Regions from separate parts of the Homo sapiens genome. Here region 1 is linked to region 2. The links come from fine-mapping of genetic effects on gene expression. A gene starts in region 2. The other region holds a variant in brackets. All regions are shown on one strand. Distances are from middle to middle. Region 1 holds the start of AOAH-IT1 (AOAH intronic transcript 1). Region 2 holds the start of AOAH (acyloxyacyl hydrolase).

Region 1 (12,184 bases), 130 kb after region 2:
TGGCAAGTCATCCCAAGCAGTGGTGTGCGCCGTCTCCCGGGGGCCTTTCCCCGGGATATGTCAGGCCAGACATATCTGAGTTCAGACCAGAGCAGTCCTGGGCCCTGCGCTGCCTTGCATAAGGGATTCTTTCAACAACAGAAAACACAGAAGTCCTCCAGGGGCCTGAATCAACAAGGGAAGGTGCTCATCATAAGAGGGGCCCTCCCAGAGCCTCTCACTGGGTTAAGGGTTGGTCATTTAATTTGCTGCTGTTTGTCTGAGGTGTGAATACTTGTTCTTTATTAGAGGGAATATCCAATCTGATACATGGTAGTTGCTCTAAAGTGTTTGTAGAAGGGAGAGAGGGAGGAGAGGAGGGAGGAAGGCTGCCTCACAGAGTTGTGTAATTGAATTGAACAATTTGTGCAAGTTTTTCCTGTCTCAGTGCCTGGCACATAAGGGGAACCCCGCATTAGTTCTCTTCCCCACTCTCGCTTAATGCAAGTTATCTGGGAAACAGCACATCCAAGCATCATGAGTAGGTTAGACATTTATTTGTAGGACAGATTCATGCAGCAGAGGCTACAGAAATGGGAGTCTGGCAGGAAAGTGTGTGTGAAAGCCAAGGAAGGCTCTGAAAGTTGCATAATGTGGTGCTCCCACAAGAAAGGCACTAAGGTAATGGGAGCGGTGGGGACCTGAGCAGATGGGAGGCAGTGTGGTGGCACGGTGGGACTGAGAGGCAGAAAGCAGGAGGAACCCTGCTTACCTTCTGCAAGCGCCACTGCAGGACAGACGGAGGAGGAGCCAACTAGCGGAACTGGGAGACCCATGGTTCCAACGCTAAGCAGGTAGCCCTTGTCTTTGATTCCCGGGCCTTGAAACTCTCCAGCGTTATTAAAAATACCAACCCAAGAGCTATTTTCTTTTTTTGGTAAAGTAACAATCCCCCATCTGCTTTGAGACTTTAATTCTGGGGAATGGATAAAACAATGCTTATTTAACTGGTGATGACATTTTTTATCTTTTTCCAACAGCAGTTACTTAGATTCCTCCAAGTGACTTTGTACTGTTTGAAAATAATCCATTCAGGTCTAATGCAGGTACATGTAATAGAAAAGGGAATATACTGTGTAGATTGTCCACAGCAGTGCAGGATGGAGAGAGCCCAAATGTAAACAGTGAAGGAAAGGCACTGAGGATACTCCCTGCTTTGCTGGAAGACTGGCAGAATCAGATGAATGAGGGATTGGTGTCATTACTCTCTTTCTCCCACACAACAAAGCTTTAAGAACATCAATTGCTTGCTGACATTAGGGCTTAAAATATTACCAAATTCGAATTATTGTATTTACTAAATATCCATCAAAAATGGGAACCAGTGGGCTTTCTCGATGCATGGAAATACACACACACATACCCACACACAGGGAAACGTTAAATGAAACTATTACACAAAATAGTAAACATGTGCCAACTATGCTGTAAAAATAAATATCTATCATTGATAAAGGTCAGAAGAAATTTTGAAGCAATGCGGTAGTGATCTAACACTCACTAGGTTGCTCACGCTCTTTAAGTTTGGAAAATTTTTCTTGGTAAATATTCAGTCTTTTTCACATATGTACATTTAAGGTACATTTAAAACGAGTTTCCTAAGAACATAAATGCTCAAGAGGAATAAGCAGGAGTTGATGAGGAAAATCTTAATTTGCATTCCTCCTGCCTCAAATGCCTGAAGTATCTTGGATATAATGTTGCGTGAATAAGGCTTTTAGTGTTTAATGTGATAGGACTTAAACATTCTCTTTTTGCTAGGGTCTATAAAACATTTGCTATTAATAGCCACTACTTTTCATTTTTATCTACCAAATTTACTAAGGAAAAAAAATATGCCAAGGCTTCTATTAGTGTGCTCAAACCTTTTCTATTATCTGGCAAATAAATGTCACTCCTCTTAAACCTGGGACAGTTCACTTGGAAAGGGACACTAGGTGGTCTGCCCTAAACATGATGCTTCACATAGTAGGGCTCTGACTTGTCAACCTGCTTCTGACTGTGTCTTTTGGTCTTCCTCACAGTTTTGCTGAAGTAAATAAGGTGATATTTCTATAGTCATTGGAGATACTGAAACTGAAATACATCTTCCCCAAGTTTGCACACTAATAACAGTAAAGCCTTGGCTTAACACCAGAAGTGAAGTCTAAAACATTCAACCAGGAAAGCACAGGTTTGCTATATTTTGAAGTTCATCGAGTGACCTGGTCTGCCTGGGCCTTCCAGGGCTCCCGCTGAGGAATACAAACTCACCCTGGCCCCAGTTGTGATTCAGCACCAGCCACTGTCCACTCCAGCTGAAATCCTAATGGGGATGATTCCAAGACTAACTAGTTTCTGAGATATCAGCAAGGATTCCAGGAATCTCCCAGGTAGCTGAGTCCCATTTCTTCAGATTAATCCACAGAGAACTGAGCTTGGAGAGTGTTAGCAACATGGAGATCCCACTTCCCAAGACAGGATTGCCTGCCGTTTTCCCACCTACCCTACCCCTCCTCTCGACATCCCCTCTTCCGCCACTGAAGACAAGAAGTTCATCACCCACCCCTGACCGAGAATGAGGGTTGCCGGGGGTATGGAACTTATTTCCAGTGGTGTCAGATCCAATCATGGAGTTTTCTTGATTTGTGTTTCTTCTTTGTATTTGTAGAGCCAGACGCAGAAGACAGATCATCCGATTTCTAGAGCAAAGCCCTTTCTCTACTTTGCTGGCACACTTCAGAATTATTTACCCCTCCCTTAGTGTGCCAGGCTACAGAGGGTATGCCTATGCCTGCGTAGTTCTTGTCTAACTCCTTCCTGTGAAAGGGAGAGCAGTCCCAGACAGAATCAGAAACCTAGTTCCTCATCCAGTTTCCCAAGTCTGGAGTTGCCATTGCACGGATGACAGAGAAAAAGGTGAGGGAGTGGGGTGGAAAAGAACCATATCATTCTTGTAAGTTTCAACGTGTTTTGCAGGTTACTGACTCAACACAGCTCATAAATTCTGCCTGCATCTCGCAAGCCACTTGCTTACTCACTATCTCTGCTAAACATATCTTGTGAGTTTCATCCATTCTATTTGTTTTTCTTGTCTTGTCTGGCAGAATGAATATTCTCATCCTACAGTAAACACACATTGTAAGCAGAAAGATGTAGGGAAAAATAAGATAAAACACAGAGAAAAGTTTTGCTTTGTAGTGGCAGGAGAAATAGAAACTCAAACAGATAATAGCTGAGTCACAGTAATGGTGGAGTCTCGAGCAGAAAGTGGTGGGTGCTGAATGCTAAGGGGTGACAAAGTACCTGTCACTGAGACTGCATGGTCCTCTGAGATTTACTGGGAGCTTTCTTTCTATGGGGTTGTTTCTGGTTTTTAAAGAGGATAAATCATCATTAATACAGGTGCATCCCAGGACGCCATACTTCCTGACCAACTCCTCCCTCTTCCAGCCCCTACCGTGCTGGAAATCACACTTAGGATAAGAATAAGGATGGAGGTTTCGTGGCATGTGTGGAAGGAGGAGGCAATTGAAGAAGGAGGAGCAGAGGAAGCTCAGAGACCCACAGAAAATATACAGGATATCATGGGATGACTGCTGCTGCGTTTGAACACATTTGTTTGTTCTAGGAATTATTTTGAAAGTAAACATAGTAAAGGGGTTCATGTCTTAGCCCTTTGAATAATAAAAGCAACAAGCATATTGTCCGATTCAAGCCATGTATTAGTTTCCTTGGCTGCCATATCAAAGTACCACAAGCTGGGTGGCTGAAAACAACGTAAATTGATTGCCCCAGAATTCTGGAGGCTGGAAGTCTGAGATCAAGATGTCAGCAGGGTTAGTTCCTTCTTGGGGGTCTGTGAAAACATTTATTCCATGCCTCTCTTCCAGCTTCTGGAGACAGCTGGCAATCTTTGCCATTAACTGGATTGCAGAAGCATCATTCAAATCTCTGCCTCCACCATTGCACGGCCTTCCCCCTGTGTCTTCATTTCTGTCTCTTCCTCCTCCTCTTCTTATAAGGACCAGTCATACTGGACTGGGGGCCCATCTTATTCCAGTATGACCTCTTCTTAACTAGTTACATCTGCAACGACTCTATTTCCAAACAAGGTCACATTCTGAGGTGGGGTTAAGACTTCAACACATCTTTTCGAGAAACATAATTCAACCCATAACAGTCCACAATTAAGAAATATAAATTTGCATTTTATTTATTTTGAGTGCTCATTCTCTATCTCTCTGAAAATAGGAGGATTGAGTTTTTCCCAGTTTAAAGATTTATGGTAGATTTCACGTATAAACTGTTTTATATATGACACAAACTGTTAACCGTGGTTATCTCACAAGAGTTATCTCTTAGGGGAAGGTGACGGGGGGTGGGGGGGCTTTCATTTCTGCATTGTAAATGACTATAATGTTTGCATTTCTAAAACAAACCCATGTACTACCTTGCAATAAGAAAGAACAATGACATACTTTCAAGGAGTTAATGGCTTTTCTTTCCCTCGCAGCCTCTAGCATCAGAGTCTCCTTAGGAGAGGGATCTTCATGGATGAGGAAAAAAGCAGGAGGCCAGGGGCATGTGCCATTTGGAAAATTATGCTAAAGCTACAATTGTTTTGACATGCTTGTCTTTAGACATTACTTTATTTTAAATTTTAAAATAGCATTAAAGGAGGACTCAAGGTTTTCACATTTACCCGAAGGGAGCACGGATTTTCAATATTGAGAAATACAAAGGCTTCTTGCAGCCACTCATGGAGGCTTCCAGTCAGCGAAGGCAAAAAGGGAATATTGGCTTTTAAAGCTTTCATCCAAAGAAAGATGCCCAGATAAAATACAAGATACTCAGTCAAATTTGAGCTTAGGATAAATAACAAATTTTTCAAGTATAAGTATGTTCCAACCATTGCATGCATGAGACATACTAATCCAAAAAATTATTCCTTGTTTGCCTGAAATTCAAACCTAACTAGGCATCCTTTATTATTTATGTATGTATTTATTTATTTTTGAGACAGAGTCTTGCTCTGTTGCCCAGGATGGAGTACAGTGGGGTGTGATCATGGCTCACTGCAGCCTTGACGTCCTGGGCTCAAGCAATCCTCCTGTCTCAGCCTCCCATGTAGCTGGGACCACAGGCACATGCCATCATACCTAGCAAATTTGTTATTTTTTGTAGAAACCAATTTTAACTATGTTGCCCAGGCTGGTCTCAAACTCCTAGGCTCAAGCAGTCCTCCTGCTTCAGCCTCCCAAAGTGCTGGGATTACTGGCACAAGCCACAGCACCTGGCTGGTACCCTTTATTTTTATTTGCTAAATCTGGCAGCCCTATTCCAAACATACCAATTTAGATAAGCTTTTTCTAAAATTTAGACCACAGGAGAGATTAGTCCCAGAAGTCACTCATAAAAGGAGTAAAATGAGGTTGTAACTCATCACATTTTTCTTTGCTGATTTTGCACAAGCCATGGAAATGTGGTTCAAATGAATCCTATTTTTGTCAACACTTTGTATCAGGAGTTCTTGACAAATTGTGCAGGAGTTGCAGGGGGTCCGTGAGCCTCCTGAAATCACAGGCCAGGTTAAATACACGTGCATTTTTGTGGGGAAAGGAACCACAATTAGATTCTCAAAAATGTCTGAGACCCCCAAGAAGGTCAGAGGGCACCACCTTAATGCCTTAAGGCCATAGCTTTGAACCCAGGGAAGGCATTTTTTTCTGAGGGATTAGGCATTATTTTTCAGATTAATTACTTTTCAGATGATTGACTTTCTGATGGCCTAAACTGCAAAATGGAGAAAATCTCAGAAAATGTAAGAATGGGAAGTTTAGTCTGCTGAAGCATCCCTCCCAAGTGTTTGAGATGCCAAATGTTCTGCATGTTTCACAAGAGCTGAGC[G/A]GAAGCCAGGTCAAGGGTGGTGCTGATCATTGTGACTTCCCTGATGAAGTTGAAGGTTAGAGACATCTGCCTTGAATACCAAAAGCCCTTAAAGCGAGAGATTGAGAGTGGGAAACAGACACACAGAGAGCAACACTCAGGCCATGAATTTTCTTACTACCTTTAGAAAATAAATGACCATTTTGATAATTGCTACTTTATTGTTTTCCTTAGAACTCTTTCATCAATCTACCAACAGCCCTTACCAACGAGCTTGACTGGCCCCAACTCTCTGGTGCTACAGGATTTCTGGACTCCACTGTTGGGTAAGTGTCTTTGTGCACCCTCAGACATTTCAATACCTCTGTGTAAGGAAAGAACAAGAGATGGGGGTTGCTACCAAGATGTTGAAATGCGAATTATTAGGAACTGCTTCTAGAACATGAATTTGAGTTCATCCACCATACAGTAGGATGTAATGCAAATTGTATTTTAGCAGCACTGGCAAGAAAAGCATATTCCTGCTATGGGCAGGGTGGGGGTGGAGTTCCATAGTTTACCTCTGATGGAAAATACTAAACACATCACTGAAATTTTCTGATTCAAGGAAAAACAAAGTTTACTTATTTGTTCTCAGAAATAAATTTGTAAAGATAATGGCCAAAGCTGATTGGCACTTCTCAAAGTCCTAGAATCATCCTGGCTTTAATGCCCCAGATTTGTAGGTAGAGACCAGGCCTGGTGAGTTTGAATGACACACAAACCCAATTCACTACATATGCCTGGGTGTTAAGGCCTGGGGTCTGCTTCCCAGGGCCCACACTTGGCAGGGACACCTGTGATGCTGGTGAAACTTGGCAAGTGTCCCTAACATGGTAGTAAACCACAGATATGAGTCTATGGCCATCCCACCCTGAACACACCAGATCTTGTCTGATCTCTGGAAGGTAAGCAGGGCCTGGTTAGTACTTGGATGGGAGAATGTCACAGATATGAGAGGCAATTTCTCTCCCAACATCTCCTAAACATTTATGACAGTTAATAGGCACAAGGAAGATGGCAAATGAATGGCTTCCATGTGTAAAAAAGAAGAAAGGGTAGAGCTTTGCTTTTAGGTCTAAAGACAGGACAGAACCAGCTAGGAAGCCCCTCTCTGACTCAGGCAAAAATGGCAGAAGGCTGGAAAGCACCATGAGATAAGCCATGAGAACTGTGAGGAGGGCAAGTGTGCATGGGGTGTGATTTACCCAAATCTGTAAGGAACAGGAATGCCCCCAAAGGACAGACATTAATCATTTTAACAAGCAATTATTCTGATGAACAAAGAACATTGTGTGCCATGAATAATTTATTTGATGATTTTTATTCATCTGCTTTAAAAATATTTCTTAAATACTTAACCACCTAATCAGGCACAGATGTTACAGGTGTCCATTTAAAGGTAGATAGGGCTTGTCCCATCTTTGTAGTCAATTGCAATTAAGGCAGATGAGACAAGTGAACAAATAATGGTAATGCAAGGAAGATATACTAATGACAGGTCTCCTACAGAGCCACGGGGCTCCGAGGAAAAAGAGTTCATGGAAGTGATCAACAGTCACTTCCTTTGGGTGGGTAACACATGGGAGACTGGGGTCATAAAAGGGGCATAGAAGAAACTAGGAAGGGAACTAACCTTCAGGGAAGCGTACTCATATTTACATAGAAATAATCTGCCAATATAGGGAAAGCCAAGGAGATGTGTTTTCCAGTGTAGTTATACCTTTTCAAACTTAATCATGTTATTTTAAAAAAGGCTAGTCCTTGTCATTAGTGTAAAAATACTAAAATACTTACTAATAGGGATAGTAAGAAGTAACCTTTGAGAAGTAACAAGTAACTATATGCCAAGCATTTACTGAGTGTTGTATAGATATTCTCTCATTTAACCTCCTTGTGAGGTAGTGGGTATTGTTCTCTGCATTTGCAGTTGAGAGATCCAAGGGCAAATAGACAGAATAAGAATCTTGACCAAGGTTGCCCAGCCAAGAGTGGTAGGGTCTGTTTTCATGGAACCTTGTGTCATATCATAACAAAGATATGTTCTTGCCTCTCAAACTTTGTGTTGTTTTTATTCTTTGTGTGGGAATATGGCTCACTCTAACCATTGTCCCTCTGTGTGAGAGCATAGCTATGGGATGGAGAAATGACTAAGAACCAAGAGAAGTCCTCCCCATGTAGAGGTGTGGCCTGCACTATTTCAGTGACCCATCATATGCCTCCTTAGGGTCCCAATAAGCACAGACATCTGGGACTTTCTGAGTCCTAGCCTCAGTCCCATCTTCCCTCTGCTACAGCCTCTGTTGTCTTTACCTGGAACACATCCAGAGATAACCCAGCCAAAGCAGGTTTATAGAAGAGAGAACCTTGGTCATCCCCCCAATTTCAACATCAGAAAATAAAAAAATATATATGTTTAAATGCCCTCCACCCAGTCTAGTCATTTCTCAATAAAAGTATCTGGAATTTTCTCTCAATCAAGGCTTTTATGACAATAACAAAAAGAATTAATTAGGTATGAACAATGAACACAGTTTACTGTACCTTTAATGAAAGCTTAAATTTTTACATATTGACTCTATAAATCCCAACTACCTTTTGGCCCCATGAAGTTGCCATAAAAGAAATACCGATCCGATATTTAAAATTAATTTCCAAGTAGTTTAAATCTTTACTGGAGTCACTCAAGGAATGAAAGAGGAATCCATTCACCATGCCCAGCAAACAGATAAAAACATGTTTCCTCATCTCTTTCTGCTTACAGCTCGCACACACCAGTAGTTGCTCTGTATTTCCTAAATCTAAACTTCCCCAAAACTTGACCCACACTTAGCTCCTTCTCCCAAACAGACTCTGTTCAGTCATTTTGAGTTTCTATTGGGGGATGAGAGGGAAAGCTCCCTTTTCCTTTCTGCATCTGTTCTGTCCTCCCACCAGGGGTTTACTCCCTTATCAATGTAAAATCCCACTAGCTCTTCAATCCTGCAGCAGTTTTTACCCATCATCCTGATCAGTGCCCAGCAGGCAGACAGGATCTTCCATCAAAGCATGGCAATGGGGTAAGGGGAAGAGGAAAAGTTGAGAGCCTTCAGACATGAATGGTTTCTAACTCTTATAAGCATTATGCAGAGAAATTCTGACACCATCTCACAAAGTAAGTGACCATCTAGGTGTGGCTTATATGAAAACCATCTCTATCCTGAGCTAGTCTTTATTGACCTAGTACCTTTTTATATTCGGTTCTCTATTACTGCTTACAAAAAACGCATAGTCTGCTTAAGCAACTTCCTTAGTGTTGACTCTAAGTCCTGTCCTTACCTGTTGTATTTCTAACGAGGCACACACCACAGCTGGTTGTTCACCTCCCCTGCAGGAACTTTTCTTTCTATGTGTTTGTGGGACCCCAAGCTCCCTAGCTGTTCCTCTCAGAATGCTCTTTTTGCCAGCTGTTTCTGTGTACTGTGCCTGTGTTTGCTGCCACTCAGCTGGAGTGGAGAAGAATATACCAACTCCTTTTAATGGAAAAGGAAATTCTCTGTTTGGAATCTGAGTTGCAATGGATTCCCCCATTAAGCAGAAACAGAGGCAGCATGACACTGCATCTGTGGGATCATAATTTGCTATGTCCCTCCCAGCAGTAGTTACAGCTAAAGTATCCATATACCATTGTATAAATTATATTCACAGATAATTTGTGCTAGGCCAATCTCCTTATTAAAGGAATAGAAAGTTATAAAGTATATAAAAATATCAAAGAGATTAGCATATGATGGAGGTCCTCATTTGTGGAATCAGGAAAATGAAAAGAATGTTGACCCAGAAGCAGCACTTCTGAGAGGTGTATACAGCTCCCATGGGCATTTTGGGCACATGCCCTTTGAATCCAAATGCTTATCCACAGAATTGGCGGATTTCTCTATTCAACTGGATCTCCAGAATGCGCTTCCTACCATCATGATCAGCCTTCTGCTATGGGTGTCAACAGCGTCCTTTGGAAAATGTGCCTTGTGAAAGCATCAGGAGAGGAAATGGCTCCTTCCCTTTCATTCTTTGTTTATGCTCTTTGTCCTCTCAAAATTTATTATCCCCTTCATAGATAACTTTAATTGAAATTATGTGCATGCATTAAATGACAAACATAACCCCTTAGTTTTACAAACCTTTAGTTCTTTTAGTTGAGTTGATGTTAACAAAAACTGTTTTCTTGACTCTTGGGCTTCAGAAAATTCAATAAGTGATATCCCTTAAAAAATATACTGGGATTTTTCTTCAGTGTGATTCAGGAAGAGATTGAGTAGGTCAAAAGCAGAAAAAAAAAATCTCTGTGGGGGTTAAGAGCTTGGCAATAGAGCAGTATAACTGTAAATAGGAAGAAAAAAGTATTTTTAAAAGATTAAAAATAGCTACTGGGCATCTGAGGTGAAAAGATTACTGGAGGCCAGGAGTTTGAGATCAGCTTGAGCAACATAGCAAGACCTCATCTCTAAAAAAATATTTTTTTTTAATTAGCCTGGCATGGTGGCATGTACTTGTAGTCCTTAGCTACTCAGGAGGCTGAGACGGGAAGATTGCTTGAGCCCAGGAGTTTGAGATTGCTGAGATTGCTGTGAGCTATGATCACGCCACTGTACTCCAGCCTGGGCAACAGAACAAGACCCTGTCTTTAAAAAAGTAAAAATAAAAAAGTAAAAAAAATTAAGATTAAAAATTGTACTTCATGTTCAGATCACTTTCCAAAGCAATTCATATAACAGGAAAATCCTACTTACATTAAAGAAACCAAAGATCTAATACCACATGTAGAAAGATGGGAAACAATACCAAAACTTTTACAAGAAGGAAGGACTTCTCATTTGAAAGCATCATTTAAAATCCCAGAGTAGGCATGATAGAGTGAAAGGAAGTCTGTATTTTCAGTTATAAGGGTGCTCATTCTGTGTTATTCCAGGTGGAACATTTAGCATTCCTCAACCTCATTTATGTGCTCAAGTTAAGTTGGACTAGATGATCTCTGACGTTCTCTCCCACGCTCATTGGGCATGGTTATTGGGCAACATGATCCTACTTTATGACGCTACTTGGTTTAGAAGTACTGAGGGAAATTGTTCAAGAGAGATGCTCCTGCTTCTGCTACCCACTATGTCTTCCCCTACTCCTTAACTAGCCTGTACCTCAAGACAAGACATGGCTAACTTTATGGGTCAGAGCCTGAAGTTCTTGAAACAGTGTTTGGCCAGGGTATAGAGCCTATGGTATAGTGCAGTCTCATGCACAGTAAGCCCTGTGTTGTGTGATATTGAGTGCTTGACAGGCTGTTAAATAAACATGGGACTCCATTATTGTCCTTTATGTTTACTATATCTCTCCAGCAAACCCAAAAGAGGAAAACAGGCATCTAAGTCCTTAACAAAAATAGCCACCTGAACCCAACACATCTAAACTGAGCATTTCTGGCCGTTCGTATCCCCTTATTCTGAAGGTGGGGCCAGGAGTCAGTCCAGTCAGTAGGGTTCTGCAGACAAGGATAAGTGATAAGGATGAAAAACAGGGCAGCAATCAGAGCTTTTTCAAAAAAAGTAAAAAGCTAAAATTCATCATAAAAAGCAATGAAGGCCAAAAGAACCAAAAGCAGCTACCAAAATTGTCACACCAAGCTGGAGAAATAAAACTGAGATCTGTAGTCAGCATAAATGAGTGCAAACCAGATGACATTTTCTAGATTAAATGTTGCTCCCTCTGCCTCCAGCTTAAATTTGGCATATTGAACCAAAGATGTAGCAAATACTCAGACAAAGCCATTGTTATAAGTGGTACAATAATGCTCTTCAGGGGCATTTAAACACACCTTTAGTGAGAGGTGTCCTAGAATAGAAGCGTTAAAGGTTATCTATTCTCTCCTACCCAATAGATGTTATATGAGAGAATAATTTTGAAAATCAGTGTATAACACTGAACCAAGTCACTTGGGGCAGTAAAGCCAGAAAATTGGAGAGTAGGGAATTGCAGCTAAAATTTGCTAACCTAATTTCATGTTTCAAAAAAGGACATGTAAGTACTAAACACTAATGGGCCTAATAACCTTATTAAATCCATTATTCGCAAATTACATGTGATATAATTGCAAATGATTAGCCCTGTTATAATTATACTTTGCAAAACAAATAATTAACCAGAGAGGTGGTCCTCTGAAGTTGGGTGAGGCTGATTGGAGTGGGATAGTGTCCATAGCAGCAGTTCT
Region 2 (10,767 bases):
TTAAGTGCAAGACCTGAAAAACTATAAAACTAGTAGAAGGAAAAGGTGGGAAAATGCTTCAGGACATTGGTTTGGGCAAAGACTCTTTGGGTAAGAACTCAAAAGCATAGGCAATAAAAGCAAAAATAGACAAATGAGACTACATCAAGCTAAAAACTTTTTGCATAGCAAAGGAAACAATCAACAGAGTGAAGAGACAATCTGCAGAATGGGAGAAAATATTTGTAAACTACCTACCTGACAAGGAATTAATAGCCAGAATATACAAGGAGCTCAAACAACAGCAAAAAACCTGATTAGAAAATGGGCAAAGGATCTGAATAGATATTTCTCAAAAGAAGACATTCAAATGGCCAACAGGTATATTTAAAAATGCTCAGCATCATGAATCATGAGGGAAATGCAAATCAAAGTCACCCTGAAATATCATCTCACCCCAATTAAAATGGCTATCATCAAAAAGACAAAAATAACTGATGCTGGTAAGGATGCTTTGAAAGGGCACTACTAGCACACTGTTGGTGGGATTATAAATGGTACAGCCCACTATAGAAAACAGTATGGAGCTTCCTCAAACAACTAAAAATAGATCTAATATATAATCTATCAATCCCACTGCTGGTTATGTATTCAAAAGAAAATCAGTATGTTGGAAAGGTATACTGACATACTTTGTAGTATAAACCCATGTTTATTGCAGCACTAGCCACAGCAGTCAAGGTATGAAATCAACTTAAGTGTCCATCAACAGATAAATGGATAAAGAAAATGTGGTACATGTACACAATGGAATACCATCTGGCCATTAAGAAGAATGAAATCCTGTCATTTGCATCGACATGGATGAAACTGGAGGTTATTATGTTAAGTGAAATAAGCCAGGCACAGCAAGACAAATACTGCATGTTCTCACTCACTTGTGGAAACTAAAGAAGGTGATCTCAAGGAGGTAGAGAATAGAACGATAGATACCAGAGACTTGGAAGGGTGGGAAAGGGTGAATAAAGAGAGATTGATTAATGGCTACAGAAATACAGTTAGATGGAATAAGTCCTGGTGTTGAATAGCACAGTAGGGTGACTTTGGTTAACAACAATTCATTGTATATTTCAAAATAGCTGGAAAAGAGAATTTTAAATGTTTCCAAGACAAAGAAATGATACATATTTGAGATGACGGATATCCTAATTACCCTAATTTGATCATTACACATTGCATGCACGTATTGAAATGTCACATGTACACCAGAAATATGTACAGTTATTATGTAGCAATTTTTAAAATCTTGATTTAAAAAACTTCCCCCAAAATTTCAATGCTACTTGAGAAGAATAATGTGAATTCATTGTCAGCTTCACATTCATCTAACAGTTAATATTATGTTTTTAAATTCATGTTGTCTCTCTAATTCTCACAATTTTCTTAAATATTGACATTATATGCCCTATTCTATAGTAAAATAAACTGGTATTCTGAAAGGTGGAGCAGCTTACCCAGGGCACACAGCTACTAGGAGGGGAGCCCATGACACAGGCCCCCCATCCTAGCCCAGAGCTCTTTTAATGAGCCCCCATGCATCCTCAGCATGGGTTAATTTACCCTGTCCTTAGCAGACAGCAGAACAGAATAGAATGAGGCTAGCGTTAATAAGCTCTGACTGAGGAGGAGGGGAGCAGCAGAGGGCCTGGTTTTGGTAGATGGGAACTGAGGACTGCTGTACACAGTCCTGGGCAGCCAGGAGTAACAGGGCAGCATGGACCTGGGCCTTAGAGAGAGGAGAAAGTCTAAGACGAGACACGTGTTGGTGACAGTGCCAGCTTTTACAGGATCTCCCATCACCCACCTCTTTTTTTTTTTTTTTTTTTTCTGATTAAGGAACTTGCTGTGGATGAGGTGGTTGAGGCCAATGTGGTCAAAAAATATTCAGGAAGCATATTCATACTGAACAAGCAGACCACAGGTGCAACACTTGGGGATCACAAAGCCTTAGCCTTCCATGGCACAGGGGAAAGCAGTGGTTTGAATCAGAGCTGTTTGAGTGAAATCAGTAACAAAGTGCTTCAGGGAAGAAATCTCATTTTCAAGAGCAGATTTCGAGATGATTCAAAATTGGAACATCTGACAGTGGGGTCCTGCAGGAACATTCTCCAGGGCCTGACTAGTTGTTCTAAACCACAGGTAGGTCCAGGGCCTTTTGGCAAGCTGTGCAAAGATCCCAAGTCATTTGCACTCAGTACTTGATGAGCAAAGGCAGCCCTGTCAGGGGCAATGATACCAGCCAGTGTGAAGGACAACTGTGCAAATGGGAGGGTCCACTCCATCCTGGTGACGGAGAGGGATGTTTTGTTCAGTGGTCTGTGCACACGTGCACTTTGTTCCAGCTTCTGCTGGCGAAATCACTTTCTGATTTCTGCATTCTTCCTTTGATCATGCCCAGTAAGAACTCACCCTCCAAGCATGAAAAATCCTTCCATTACTGAAAACCTATGTGTCAGGTTTTACCATGATATATTCCTACGAAGTAGATAGTCTCACCTCCCTTTTCTAGCTGAGGACTGTCACCTCTGGAAACAGGAAGGGGCTTGCTCAATACTGCACAGCTAAGTCAGCGACTCCCACTGTGACCAGCCCCGAAGCCTGAGCACACTAGAGAGTTTCAGAGCCGACCATCCCTGGGATGGTTGTGAATGGCACTGCCTGGCCCACATACATGCGATGAAGGGCACAAAACTTGCATTTCCGGCATACCAAGAAATCCCTCTCACTCTAAGAGTTTCCAGACCTGCTCGCAGCTATACATTGAGACCAGGAGAGCCTCAAGAGGCCCAAAGCCTGTGTCAAATGCTCTTCCAGAAGCCCTCAGGAGAGTCCTCACCCATTTATGGATTAGACAAACTAGACCACACACTCCTGGAGTGCTGTAGCACAGCTGGAAGGTATTCAATAAATCCTCCCTTTTCCTGTCCTCACCATTTCCCATGTATGACATGATGGCCTACAACTACCATGGGCGTCTTGGAATTCTCTTGAAGCTGGTCTGGGGTGCAGGTTTCATCACACTCCTGCTAGAGTCATAGACAGATGCACTAAGCACTTACTTCTTGCCAGCCATGCTGCTTTGTTGTTTGGATACATCATGTATTCGAGTGCTTCCAGCAGCGCATTGGAGCGGATATTACCATTATCCCAATAGAAATGAGCTACTTGGGAGGCTGAGGTGGGAAGATCACTTGAACCCAGGAGGTCAACACTGCAGTGAGCTGTGATCACACCACTGCACTCCAGCCTGGATGAAAAAGCAAGGCCCTGTCTCAAAAAACAAACAAACAACAACAACAACAACAAAAACAAGACACTGAAGGGGGGAAAGTTACATCACTGGTCTAATATATTACTCAGAATAAACAGTAGACATGAGACGTAAGCATGAGCCTTTCTGTCTTCACAATCTGAGTTCCTAATCAATCAGTCCTTTATTTAGCCTCCCTTGGAAGTCTCTGGAACTTCTCTAGGCCTCACCCCTGTGGTGGTCCTAGTGACCCCAGAGCTCCCCTTAGTCACAGAGTGAAGAACTGAAGCAGCAGCACCTTAGAGTCAGAGGAAGTCACAGGCCCATGGACGCCTAACGATATCCTCAGTATTGGGCTGGAAGTGTAATTAGGGAAACACTCTGACTTGTGCTATCTCTGCAGCAGGTTTGGGAATTGTAGCCCCATCGGTGCTTGTAAGACTAATGACTGCACAAGAAATCTTCCAACCATAAAAACTGGTATTTCCTACATCCTGGAAAGGATGCTACTCTAAAACTTTGCCTGCTACTCCAAATGCTATTTTTTTTAATTGCTAACAATTTAGATAGCTTCTATAATATTTCAAAATTTGTAATAAGCTCCCTCAGAGCCTAAGCAGAGAGAAACAGAATCTCATGACCTCCTACACTTACCTAGACTGTGGTACTTTGGCCCTGTCCTCTTATCTTGACTGAGAATGGCATATGATTTTGTTTTATCTTATTTTAGAGAGAAACATTTAGATTATATGTCTTTTATCTATGATCTGGTTCCGATTTTTTTTTTCCCTCAGAAAGACAGTGTTCAGTTCTATTCTTCAGAGCAGAAAATCAGTCTCTTAACAAATCATCCACAAAATGCACTTCGAAATTCTGGAGAAAAAAAAGATGCATTGTGCACAGCCTAGCAACTGTGAATTGATTAATTCTAACCCATGTTTTTTCTCATTAGGTCTAAAATCCCACCATGCTAACTGCCCATTATTTTCTGTACTGTTTATTTTCTGCACACCAAATAAAAGGCCTTGACCCTTCAAGGAATAACCCAATTTCTCCAGAGGAAAGATATTATTTGACCAGAATATCCTTTTACAACAAAATAAGGATCACAACCTTACCATATAAAGCTGTTGAAAACAAGACTAAGTAAGTTCTGAATGTAACCAATTAGAATTTCTACAATATGTGGGTGCTGCTGATCAAATTGTTAAAGGGTTGTGTGCTTGTGGATTAGTTTTTTTTTTCTTTTTTCTTCTCAGTTTTGGCTTTAGTATCGTTTTGTTTTGTTTTGCAAGAATGAAAGGGGAAGGGCCTCCTAACCAACCCAACAGATCAGTTCCGGCAAGCCTCGAGGCTCACGGGGTTTATGCACACTAACTTCACTGAGCCAGGGAGCACGGAAGTTGTGCCACTGTGCAACTTGGGTTTTCTTTATCCTGCAGTCTTTACCTCAGCAGAACCGCACACCACAGACTCCCTCCAGCTCTTTGTGTGTGGCTCTCTCAGGGTCCAACAAGAGCAAGCTGTGGGTCTGTGAGTGTTTATGTGTGCTTTTATTCACTTCACACTTATTGAAAAGTGTGTATGTGAGAGGGTGGGGTGTGTGTGTCAAAGAGAGTGAGGAAGAGAAGGAGAGAGAGATCAATTGATTCTGCAGCCTCAGCTCCAGCATCCCTCAGTTGGGAGCTTCCAAAGCCGGGTGATCACTTGGGGTGCATAGCTCGGAGATGCAGTCCCCCTGGAAAATCCTTACGGTGGCGCCTCTATTCTTGCTCCTGTCTCTTCAGTCCTCGGCCTCTCCAGCCAACGATGACCAGTCCAGGCCCAGCCTCTCGAATGGGCACACCTGTGTAGGTATGCAAATAAATATTTTTGTATTTTCTATGTAGACATAACAATGGGATCCAGTACTTTGCTTGCGTAATAAATCACATATTTTATTAAATCAAGAATTGTAAGATTCCAGGTAAGGCACCAGTAACCTCACTGACACAGAGAAATGTGGAGTCTAAGAGTAGACATTGACACTACATACATCTATGTGAATAAAAAGCATACTAGTTTAAATTGGGCATAAAACTCTTCCACCTCATTGGCGATTGGAATTTTTTCTTCTTGTATAGGTAACTATTATTTCAGGCTATTTTAGTCTGAAATTTTTACTGCTTTTCATGGGCTTTGACCTCATATAAACACATCTGAGTTTGAATCACTGCCCTCCTCCTACCCTTCTCTCCCATTTCCTACTGGCTGTGGAAACCTGGAGCAATGTACTTAACCCTCTCCATGCTTCTGTGTCCTTATTGGTGAACTGAAGTGAGTGAGACCCATCTCATAGGGATACCATGGAAATTGTGACCATGCATGTAAATCTGTGGCATGTGCACACAGTAAGGACTCAACCATCTTAGCTTCCTTCCGTCTCTCAGAGAATCCAGATTTGGCGATCACCTGGAGACGCTGAGCGTTGATATGGCTTCTTGGCTCATCTGTTAATGAAGTGTTTTATTTCCAAGAGGTTTTTTTTGTTTGTTTTTTTTGGATGAGAGCAGGAAGTAAGGTAAGATCTTTGATATTCACATTGTAGCTCTCATAACATGGGAATTCTCATAATAGTGGTGGCATTTAGATGGTACAGTCCATGGAGCCACATAGACTCAGAACTCTGAGTAGTAAGTAATTGTTCAATGAGCAGACCTCAAAATACAATCCTAGCTTGAGAAGCCAGGAAAATAACTCTAGGATAAGTCTGATGGCTACATGCTGCAAATGGAAAATCTGGACACAGATTCTGACACTTAGGAATTGTTTCTGGAGACAATATGGAAATATATCTGAATTTGTCCTACTTCCTCAAAATCATGGCCTCAGGTCATTGTACATGTTAGGAGATGCATCTCTACTTCCAAAGTCCTTTTTTTTTTTTTTTTTTTTTTTTTTCTGAGATGGATTATCGCACTGTCACCTGGGCTGGAGTACAATGGTGCAGTCTCAGCTCACTGCAACCTCTGCCTCCCTGGTTCACACAATTCTCCTGCCTCAGCCTTCGGAGTAGCTGGGATTACAGATGCACACCACCACACCCAGCTAATTTTTTGTATTTTTAGTAGAGATGGGGTTTCCCTATGTTGGCCACACTGGTCTCGAACTCCTGACCTCGTGATCCGCCCCCCTTGGCTCCCAAAGTGCTGGGATTACAGGCATGAGCCACCGCGCCCAGCCTCCAAAGTCTTGTTTTAATTAAGACCCAGATTCCCCAAGACTATTTTCCAGAGACCTGAAGGCAGAGGTGTGTGGTCCTTTGAACCATGCCTGGGAGATCATCCTCCCCCAGTATTTGGTTTCCTTAAATAACTATTTGCCACCTTTTCATTTTTCTCAAAACAAAACCCTACTGCCCATCAAATGGAAATACACTTGAGAAAAGCTCAGATGAAATCAGTTTTACTTCTGGGCTCATTGCAAACTAAATGTTTGAGTTTGGGCAAGTTGTCAGGGCTGAGATCCTTGGACCTTCACTTCAGTAAAATGGACAGGAGGTACACATTCCTTTCTCTGCCCTGTTCCCAGTGAGGTCATAGAGGGTAAGAAGGAGGTGTTGGGGAGATTTCAGGATGGGGTTGCTCTGGTTTTTCTATTATTGCTGCATCAAAAATTACAATAATAACCATTTGTTGTATTATGATTTTATGGGTGAAAAATTTGTTCGAACACTGGCTGGTGATTCTTCTTCTCCATGTAGGAGTGACCGAGGTTAGGAGGTGGTATTCGGATGGTGGATTGATGGATCTGGGACTGACAAAAACAGCTTCACTCACATATTTGGCACCTTAGGGGTGAGGGAATGGCTAGAGGGTTGGCTCATCTGGGAGTGCCATCAGAGTGCCCACACATGGCTATCTTGGGTAGTAGGCTTTCTTACCTGGCAGCTTAGGAATCCCAGAGAGAATTCCAAAAGACAGGAATTAGAAGCTGCCAATCTTTCAAGTTTTGGGTCTGGAAACAGGCACAGCATTACTTGCCATCTTCCATTGCTCAAAGCATTCACAAGTTCCTCCACCCAGACTCAAAGGGAGGGGGCAGAGACCCTTCATTTTGATGGAGAGGGTCAAGAAATGTGTGGTCATCTCTATCATTCACAGAGGTTCACTTTGGTTGCCCATACAAATTCTCATGGCCCCAAGGGCTTGGAGACTCTGTTGCTGATTAGGTTTGAGGATGATTTAGCATCCATTTTCCCAGCAACTCCCAACTTCTTCTGGTTAACTCTGCCTGGGTGACTTATTCACCTGTTGTCATAATAGCAAGAAAGGTGGGTGCAAGAGGAGTCCAGTCTTGTGATGAACACTTACTGAGCACTGCCTATGTGCTGAGACAGGGGCTGAAGGTGGTCCAACTTGGTGCTTCACTGATTGAAGTTGGCTTTTGGGGGAGACAGGATTAGAAATGTGTGTGCAGGGGAGTTTATTGAGAAGTGCTCTTGGCAAAAAGACGAGCAAGAGAGGAAGGCAGTGGGGTTGGCAGAGAGAAGCCGGGCTGTGCTGCAGCCATAAAAGAAGTCCCACTGAGAGCTCTGGGACTAAAATAGCTCTTCAGAGTTGTCCTGAAGTAGGTGCAGGTCTTGGAATTCCCACATCAAACAGTCCCTCGATGTGACCTGACCACAGGGGAGGGCTGTAATTTTGAGACATCTCCCGTTGGTGGAGACAGTTCTGGCAAGGGACTCTGATGCTGGCATAATCCTTCAGACCAATGGCTCCAGAAGCTGGGGAGCGAGTGTCTCCTGATACGGGATCCTGGGGTGTACCTGCTGGAAGGGTTGTATGTGGGAAGCATCTCAGGAAGCAGTGAGGTCCGCTCTCTCGCAGCTGGTGGGAAGAGGAAGAAGTGTGTGGAAGAGAGGAGAAAAGAGAAGGAATTGTTGATTGGAGTTCTTCTAACTCTACATTTGTTGCCAACACCCTAACAACTTTCTGACAAAAAGCAGGGTTACATGACTTCAAACCCTCCAGCAGAAAGGTGGTCCCCAAACATTTCCGCGCACTCAGTTCTCACATGGCCACTGAATATGCGAGAGCAGGGATACACAGATGAAGGAGAGGAAGGATTTTTAGAATGTCTGTCTTCAGGAAATTCACTGTCCAGTTTAGAGGAAAACGAAAACCTGGAGCCTTGTAAAGATTACAGTCCTTTAAAATGAATGTTGAACTGGGCCCTTAGTGCCCTTGATAATACCCTTTCTCTAAAACTCTTTAAACTGCCAATGCCAGAGCCAGCAGAGCACCATGAAGTGCAGGGCAGAGGCTCATAGCTTGGAAGCAGGCACTGCAGACTCCGCTCATAAAGCCACCTGGGGAAGGTGAAGTAATAGCCTCAAAAAGAGTGTTTAAAACTTTAAGATTTTAGGTCGTGTGTGGTGGCTTACGCCTGTAATCCCAGCACTTTGGGATGCTGAGGTGGGCAGATCACGAGGTCAGCAGATTGAGACCTGCCTGGTCAATATGGTGAAACCCTGTCTCTACTAAAAAAAAAAAAAATGTAAATATAGATATACAAAAATTAGCAGGACACGGTGGGGCATGCCTGTAGTCCCAGCTACTCAGGGAGCTGAGGCAGAAGAATCGCTTGAACCCAGGAGGCAGAGGTTGCAGTGAGCCGAGATCACATCACCACGCTCCAGCCTGGGCGACAGAGCGAGACTCCATCTCAAAAAACAAAACAAAACAAAAAAAAAAACTTTAGAATTCTAGAAACATTTCTACCTGAATATTGCTAGTCAAAGAAGGAAGCTTCAGTTATCTCAAAGATTCTGTTGCATTCACCTGCTTGCTGAAAGAACCCAGGCCACAGAAACTTTTCTGAGCAAAAGGTGATTAGGCAGCTGGATTTCTGATCATCCCATCTGAGCAAGAATGATTCATCTTTTTTTTTTTTTTAATAAAGACAAAGTCCTACTCTATCACCCAGGCTACAGTGCAGTGGTACAATTATAGCACACTGAAGCCTCAACAGCCCAGGCTCTAGTGATCCTCCCACCTCAGCCTCCTGTGTAACTGGGACTACAGGTGCACACCACCATGCCTGCCTAATTGTTTTATTTTTATTTTCGTGGAGACAGGGTCTCATTATGTTGTCCAGGCTGGTCTCAAACTTCTGGGCCCAAGCAATCTGTCTGCCTCAGCCTCCCAAAGTGCTGGGATTATAAGCATGAGCCACCGTGTCCAGCCCTCTTCATTTTTGTTAGTTGTCAGCTGTCTTTTAATTGCCATTCCAACATAAATTCTTACCTTGATCATAAAAGGATATCCTTGCCTTGATTTGTAAGATCATAATAACCTAAAATATTTATATCACCTTCCCAACACATGGAAGAAGTTCTTCCTTCCTATTTTTCTTCAAGATCAACTGAACTAGTTGGGTTTCATCCATTTTTATGAAGATTATTGTTGAGTAATCAAATTTGCTTCTTACTCATAAAGTTTGTTTTGCTACTGGTCTCCCCAACACTTCTCCGTGGGGGTTGTACCTTCCATCTTTTCTCTGACTTGAATGTGGACTAATTGGAGTGATGCCTGGAGAAAGTCACTACAGCCAAGTGCTCTTCAGCCACACAAATTACATTTGCGAGTTAATAATTATAATAATTGCCAACATTTATTGGACACTGACTGTATGATAAGCCATCTTCCAAAAGATTTATGTGTACTAACCCATTTAATCATTACAATGACCTTATGAAGTCTGTATTATCATTATCCTTGTTTGGTAGGCGAAAAAATAAAGACAGAAATAAGTAACTTGTTCAAGGTTACATAGTTAGTTAAAACTTGGCTTATTCCTCGCTTTAATTATGATTATGTTATTGTTGATGTGATTAAATCAGGGTAAAATATTTTTCCCATATTGTTTTAAATAACAGCTTTATTGAGAAATATAATTCATGTATCATAAACTTCACTCTTTTAAAGTGTAAAAGTGGCATTTAGTATATTCATGAGTTGTGCATTGATCACCAATATCTAATTCCAGAACATTTCACTGCTCCCCCCAAAAATCCAATTCTCTTAGCATTTACTCCCCATTTCCTTCTCTCTATAGCCCTTGGAAATCACCACTCTACTTCCTGTCTCTATGGGCATTTCACATAAATACGATAATATAAAACATGGCCTTTTGCTACAGGCCTCTTTGACTTAGCATAATGTTTTCAAGGTTCATTCATGTTGTGGCATGTATCAACCCTGTTTCTTCTTACAGCTGAATAATATTCCATTGTATGGACATACTTGGTTTTGTTATTTATTCATTGTTGATGAACATTTGAGTTGTTTTCACTTCTTGGTAATTATGAATAATTCTGCTATGAATATTCATGTACAAGATTTTGTGTAGACATGTGTTTTTATTTCTTTTGGGTATATACCTAGGAGTGGAATTTCTAGGGCATGCGGTAATACCATCTTTAACATTTTGAGGAA

The links.
Region 1: its variant is fine-mapped to the expression of AOAH in whole blood (TOPMed, PIP above 0.99).

What each region holds. Positions count from the first base shown.
Region 1 is chr7:36,588,388-36,600,571 of GRCh38, reverse strand. It overlaps AOAH (acyloxyacyl hydrolase), which reads left to right. Exons shown (of 21, transcript NM_001637.4): 12 at 6,142-6,233. It overlaps AOAH-IT1 (AOAH intronic transcript 1), which reads left to right and starts at 452. Exons shown (of 3, transcript NR_046764.1): 1 at 452-829; 2 at 2,266-2,411; 3 at 2,690-2,738. The variant G/A (reference allele first, on the strand shown) is at 5,929.
Region 2 is chr7:36,718,398-36,729,164 of GRCh38, reverse strand. It overlaps AOAH (acyloxyacyl hydrolase), which reads left to right and starts at 4,671. Exons shown (of 21, transcript NM_001637.4): 1 at 4,671-5,143. The coding sequence starts at 5,017.